Linked DNA regions of Homo sapiens: region 2 is reported to be linked to region 1. Evidence: microRNA targets listed by miRTarBase, many of them from high-throughput screens and not tested one by one. Region 1 holds a microRNA gene; the other region holds the end of a gene's coding sequence.

Region 1 (3,394 bases):
GGCTGAGACCAGGTGGAGGCATTCCAGATTCCAGAAGCTTTGACATCAAAATCGGGGGGCACTGCCAGGTTGAAAAGGGCGTGGCTTAAAGGTTGGGCGGGGCCGTAGGGGCGTGGTCAAATGCCAAGAGGTGCAGCCAACTTGGAGGCCTCGAAGGTATTCACATAAGGAATACGTGAAAATGGACGTAATCAGAATGCCTGGCGGGCCGGAGAAGGAGCGTTGGCGGGAGGTAGCAGTCAATTCTCAAGCAACTGAGTCAACTCAGGGACAGGGTTAGAAGGGAGGCTCAGAATGACAGGCGTGGTCAACTCCAGAGGCGGGGCCATACTGAAGATCTGGACAGAGTCAAAAACTAAGGCTATATAATTCTAGCAGTTTGGGAGGCGGAGGCGGGAATCATCGCTTGAGCTCAGGAGTTCGAGACCAGGCTGGGCAAAATAGCGAGCCCTCGTCTTTACTAAAAATGAAAATAAATTAGGCCTGGCGCGGTGGCTCACGCCTGTAATCCCAGCACTTCGGGAGGCCTAGGCGGGTGGATCACAAGGTCAAGAGATCGAGACCATCCTGGCCAACATGGTGAAACCCCCTGTCTATTAATAATACAAAAATGGGCGTGGTGGCGCGTGCCTGTAGTCCCAGCTACTCGGGAGGCTGAGGCAGGAGAATCACTTCAACCCGGGAGGCGGAGGTTGCAGTGAGCTGAGATCGCGCCACTGCACTCCAGCCTGCTGACAGAGCAAGACTCCGTTAAACAAACAAACAAAAAACAAAAAACAAAAAACAAAAAAAAAAAGAGAGAGAAAGAAAATAGCCGGGCGTGCTGGCCTTCGCTTGTAGACCCAGCTACTTGGGAGGCTGCGGCAGGAGGCTCACTTAAGCCTAGGAAATTCGAGGTTTCAGTGAGCCATGATCACGCCATTGCACTCCAGTTTGGTCGACAGAGCCACACCCTGTATCAAAAACAAAACAAAACAAAAATCACCCTAAGGCTGGAGTTATGGTGCAGTGGGCGTGGTCAGCGCTAGGAGGCCACGCAAGGGCAAGACCAAGGTCAAAAGCTGCACATTTCAACTCTGCTCAAACATAGCAAACACAAATACAGCGTTGTGTATACTCCAGGCACTTCCCAATAATTAACCAATTTCACCCTCGCAACTACCCCCGGGAGGTGTGAGTACTCTTATTTATTTATTTATTTTGAGACGGAGTCTTGTTCTCGTTGCCCAGGCTGGAGTGCAATGACACAATCTCAGCTCACTGTAACCTCTGCCTCCCGAGTTCGAATGATTTTCCTGCCTCAGCCTCCCAAGTAGCTGGGATTACAGGCGCCAGCCACCACGCCAGGCTAAGTTTTGTATTTTTAGTAGAGACGGGGTTTCACCACGTTGGCCAGGCTGGTCTTGAACTCCTGACCTCAGGTGATCTGCCCGCCTCGGCCTCCCAAAGTGCTGGGATTACAGGCATGAGCCACCGCGCCCGGCCGGGTACTCTTATTATCCCCATTTTTTAAATGAGGAAACCGAGGCAGAGGTTGGACGACCTGTGTACACTGCTAGGAATTAGCAGAACTGGGGTTTTAACTCAAGCAGGCGCGCTCCCGAGTCCATGTTCTCAACCACTCTCCCCCACCCACCCCGAAAGAACCTGGGATCGGGAGTCCACAGCCCGGGATGTGTGACCCGGTGGGACCCTCCGGCTCCAGGGGTGGCTGTGGAGGGCGGGGCAGGGGCGCGGCGGCCCGGGCGCCTCCCAGGGCCGGAAGCGGCAGAGCCGGTCCCGGCTCCACCCCCGGCCCCGAAGCTCCGCCACCCGCCGCCATGAGTAGCTTTGGAGCTGGGTGAGACCCTTTCGCAGACCACCCCCCATCTCCTCTCCGCGCTCCCGGGGCTTAGATCTCAGGTTTCACCCAACCCCTGGGACCCAGACCGGCGTGGGGACACGCCCCTTCCCTTAAACTCTCCCCGTTTCTCCCTCTGCTTGACGTTTGGTGTGCTGGGGGAACTGCGGGTGGGGGGCGCTGGGGAGCACCTTGCTGATTAGGAGGGAAGGGTCCTTGGTGACTCCCTTCTTCCAGGATCGCGTCCCTGCCACTTCGTGCTGTGTGATCTTTGGCGATCACTGCCTCTCTGGGCCTGTGTCTTAGGCTCTGCAAGATCAACCGAGCAAAGCACACGGCCTGCAGAGAGGCAGCGCTCTGCCCCTTACTCGGCCCCGTTTTCATCGGAGACCTCCGGGGAGCGGTGGGGGTGGAGGAATGGTTTCTCCCCTTTTCTGAACTGAATACTAAGACCCTTTTTTTTTCTTTGTCCTTTCCTGACAGCAAAACCAAAGAAGTTATCTTCAGTGTGGGTGAGTGGGGAGATGGGGAAGGGCTCGGTGGAAGCTTGCTTGTTGGGGTGACAGGCTGGAGCCAGAGGTCAGGAGTCTTGGCTACTGGGTCTTTGCCTCTCTGGCCTCAGTTTCCCTGCCTTTAAAAAAATAAATAAATAAAGCTGGAAGAGGAGAGGGAATAGGGATGGGGCTGGTGTCAGTGCCTGACCTCTGGGGGTGTCCTGGCAGAGGATGGCTCCGTGAAAATGTTCCTGAGGGGCCGCCCTGTGCCCATGATGATCCCAGACGAGCTGGCACCCACCTACAGCCTGGACACACGCTCGGAGCTGCCTTCTTGCCGGCTCAAGCTGGAGTGGGTGTATCCTTTTGCTGGAATCTCCTTGGTGCTCCCATCCCCCCAGGAGGAAATAGAAAGGCGGTCAAGGCAGCTCAGGCCTGTAATCTCAGCACTTTGGGAGGATCGTTTGAGGCCAAGAGTTTGAGACCTGCCTGGGCAACACACAAAACAAGCACAGCACGTTCAAGGGCTATGTGGCCAGAGTGGGATTGGTGCATTTGAGCAAAAAGAGTTGGGAATGGCTGGAAGCCCGGGCTCTGGAGTCTGACAGAGATGGGTTCAAACCCCAGTCCAGCCCGTACCTGGCCGTGTGACCCTGGAAAAGTCGTCTTGACTCTGAAAAATGAATTTTATGATCTCAGGTCCATAGACCTGTGAAATAATGTGTAAAGGTACTGAGCTCATAGTATGTGCCCCATGCACAGGGACTGATAAAACACTAACTCAGCACATTGGGAGGCCGAGGTGGGTGGATCACTTGAACCCAGGAGTTTGAAACCAGCCTGAGCAACATAGCAAGACCTCGTCTTTACAGGAAATAAAATAGCAGGCCGGGCGCGGTGGCTCATGCCTGTAATCTGAGCACTTTGGGAGGCCGAGGTGGGCAGATCACCTGAGGTCAGGAGTTTGAGACCAGCCTGACCAATATGATGAAATCCTGTCTCTACTAAAAATACAAAAATTAGCCGAGTGTGGTGGCATGTGCCTGTAAACCTAGCTACT
Region 2 (3,394 bases), not on the chromosome of region 1:
TCCCAGAGCCCCCACCCTTTGGGCCCGTGATCCTCAGAGGCCTCACTCCCCTGGGTCCAAGGTGGTCCCAGGTGCACGGGCCAGGGACTGGGAGGCACCCCTCTCTGTTTCAGTGTAAAAAATCATGAGAGCATGGAAAAGGGGGATGGGAAGGGAGGGATGGCCTGAGGAGTGCGGCTGGATGTCCATTATAGGATGGGGCTGTGTTCCCTGGCCAGTGTGTGCTGGTGGGGTGGGGGTACAAAGTGGGTGTTCTGGAGTGAACATCTCACCTCCTCAGGCTCTAAACCCTAAGGCCTGTGGCTCAGGGAGTGGCCCGAGGGGTCTACAGAGTCACACTGGTAGCACCCACTAGGCGGGAGGTGGAGTGAGTGCTGTTCTTTCCCGGAAGAGCTGGGTGTGGGGAGCTGAGGGGGCCCAGGCCTCAGCCCTGGTGCTGTCCCTGTGACAGGCCCTCGGGGTGTGTGGGACCATGTCCAGCCCTCTCCAGTGTATCCACAGCCCCGACCTTTGATGAGAACTCAGCTGTCCAGGTGAGTCCAGGCCCCCAGTTGCGGGGAGGTAAGGGGGCAGGTCCTGACCATCAGGGCATGGGAGGCCCTTCTGCTCCCCAAGCAGGAAGAGGCGGCCACTCCTGCCGGCTGCTCCATCCTCCCTCTCACCGCACAGCTGGAGGCTCCTGAGGGCTTCTGGCTGGCCATCAGGAAAACACCCTTTCCGGACCCCGAGCACTGCCCCGCCCAGAACCCCAGTCACTGAGTGCCCAACCCCCAGCTTCCCCCCCAACCCCCCGCCCTGCCCTGTCCCAGGCCTCCCTCTCAGAGCTTGCCCCAGGGACTCTCTGGCCCTCAGGGTTCAATGTATTCTGACCAAGGCCAAGCTTTCCTGGGGCTCAGGGAAAATCACACTTTGCTACCCGAAGCTGTATCCCCTCAGATGCCAGGAAGGCCGTGATCATCTGACTCCACCCTCCTGAGACACATTCTCTCCCTGACTGTCCTGTTCTAAGTCAGCGGAGCACCTTAGGATGGAGGGGTGGAGGCGAGGCCAGATGCAGCCTCTGTGAACAGGTGCCTGGAGGCTGGGAAATGACCCTGAGAGGGCAGGACACAGCAACCGTGGGCTTAAGGTGACCTTGAGAGCAAGCTTGGCCCACTTTACAATTCTGTTCAGAGCCAGCCCCTAACATGGTGGTCATTTATTCATTTGTTCCCTCATTTTAAAAAATGTAAGGCCAGGCATGGTGGCTCACGCCGGTAATCCCAGCACTTTGGGAGGCCGAGGCAGGCAGATCACCTGAGGTCAGGAGTTCGAGACTAGCCTGGCCAACATGGCGAAACCCTGTCTCTACTAAAAATATTTTTTAAAAATTAGCTGAGCATGGTGGCAGGTGCCTGTAATCCCAGCTACTCAGGACGCTTAGGCAGGAGAATCACTTGAACCTGGGAGGCGAAGGTTGCGGTGTGCCGAGATCGTGCCACTGCACTCTAGCCTAGGCAACAGAGCACAACTCTGTCTCAGGAAAAAAAAAAAAAAAAAAAAGGTATTTCTTTGCTGGGCGCAGTGGCTCACACCTGTAATCCCAGCACTTTGGGAGACCGAGGCGAGTGGATCACTTGAGGTCAGGAGTTCAAGACCAGCCTTACCAACATGATGAAACCCCGTATCTACTAAAAAAAAAAAAAAAAAAAAAAAAAATTAGCCAGATGTGGTGGCACACACCTGTAATCCCAGCTACTTGGGAGGCTGAGGAGGAGAATTGCTTGAACCTGGGAGGCGGAGATTGCAGCGAGCCAAGATTGCGCCTCTGCACTCCAGCCTGGGTGACAGAGTGAGACTCCGTCTCAAAAAAAAAAAAAAAAAAGTAGTGGGTGCCTGTGGCCAGGCCACATCCTAGGGTAGGGGCTATGGCTGAGCCCTGCCCTCCTGGAGCTCACAGCCAAGTCCACTTCTTCCATCTGAGGCGGGGAAGCCAGCCCTGTTCCTGAAACCCTGCATCACAAGCCCCTGTGGGAGGCAGTGGGGAGGGGAGGTCCTCCCCCACTCAGACCTGACCCACAGGGACCAGTTTAATGTGTCCTTGCCCCAGTGATGACAGCTGGGGATCTGGGGGTGGGGAGTCACCCAGGACCCGGGCAGTCGCCTTTCCCCAGCTCCTAGGGCTCCCGGCCTTCCCTGCTGAAACAGCAAGACCAGTGGGTTGGCGTGGGAGGCCTGGGCTTCAAACCACCTCTGCTATCACCTGGCTGTGGGTCCCCAGGCAGGACATACACACAGTCCCTCTCTGGCCCTCATCCTCCTCAGCTGCAAAGGAAAAGCCAAGTGAGACGGGCTCTGGGACCATGGTGACCAGGCTCTTCCCCTGCTCCCTGGCCCTCGCCAGCTGCCAGGCTGAAAAGAAGCCTCAGCTCCCACACCGCCCTCCTCACCGCCCTTCCTCGGCAGTCACTTCCACTGGTGGACCACGGGCCCCCAGCCCTGTGTCGGCCTTGTCTGTCTCAGCTCAACCACAGTCTGACACCAGAGCCCACTTCCATCCTCTCTGGTGTGAGGCACAGCGAGGGCAGCATCTGGAGGAGCTCTGCAGCCTCCACACCTACCACGACCTCCCAGGGCTGGGCTCAGGAAAAACCAGCCACTGCTTTACAGGACAGGGGGTTGAAGCTGAGCCCCGCCTCACACCCACCCCCATGCACTCAAAGATTGGATTTTACAGCTACTTGCAATTCAAAATTCAGAAGAATAAAAAATGGGAACATACAGAACTCTAAAAGATAGACATCAGAAATTGTTAAGTTAAGCTTTTTCAAAAAATCAGCAATTCCCCAGCGTAGTCAAGGGTGGACACTGCACGCTCTGGCATGATGGGATGGCGACCGGGCAAGCTTTCTTCCTCGAGATGCTCTGCTGCTTGAGAGCTATTGCTTTGTTAAGATATAAAAAGGGGTTTCTTTTTGTCTTTCTGTAAGGTGGACTTCCAGCTTTTGATTGAAAGTCCTAGGGTGATTCTATTTCTGCTGTGATTTATCTGCTGAAAGCTCAGCTGGGGTTGTGCAAGCTAGGGACCCATTCCTGTGTAATACAATGTCTGCACCAATGCTAATAAAGTCCTATTCTCTTTTATGAGAAAGAAAAAGACACCGTCCTTTAAAGTGCTGCAGTATGGCCAGACGTGGTGGCTCACACCTGCAATCCCAGCACCTTAGGAGGCCGAGGCAGGAGGATCCTTGAGGTCAGGAGTTCGAGACCAGCCTCGCCAACATGGTGAAACCCCATTTCTACTAAAAATACAAAAAATTAGCCAAGTGTGGTGGCATATGCCTGTAATCCCAACTACTCAGAAGGCCGAGGCAGGAGAATTACTTGAACGCAGGAGAATCACTGCAGCCCAGGA

What was found. The annotated mature microRNA hsa-miR-330-3p reads GCAAAGCACACGGCCUGCAGAGA and lies in region 1 at 2,166-2,188, shown strand. An mRNA with a match to its seed (bases 2 to 7 or 8) in the 3' UTR can be bound and repressed. Matches are read on the target gene's strand: a 7mer-m8 pairs with bases 2 to 8, a 7mer-A1 pairs with bases 2 to 7 and ends in A, and an 8mer does both.
Region 2: miRTarBase lists SFTPB as a target of hsa-miR-330-3p. Seed matches in the 3' UTR shown: 7mer-m8 at 2,923-2,929.

Annotation. Positions count from the first base shown.
Region 1 is chr19:45,637,803-45,641,196 of GRCh38, reverse strand. It overlaps MIR330 (microRNA 330), which reads left to right and starts at 2,110; the gene lies at 2,110-2,203. EML2 (EMAP like 2) reads left to right here and starts at 1,800. Exons shown (of 19, transcript NM_012155.4): 1 at 1,800-1,840; 2 at 2,324-2,352; 3 at 2,563-2,692. The coding sequence starts at 1,821. RefSeq lists silencers at 1,506-1,595, 1,616-1,895, 2,592-2,886 and enhancers at 1,271-2,122, 2,592-2,886, 2,123-2,974.
Region 2 is chr2:85,658,593-85,661,986 of GRCh38, reverse strand. It overlaps SFTPB (surfactant protein B), which reads left to right. Exons shown (of 11, transcript NM_000542.5): 10 at 452-533; 11 at 2,305-3,394. The coding sequence ends at 514. Among named protein-coding and RNA genes, the nearest start is that of SFTPB, 7.9 kb to the left of the region's middle.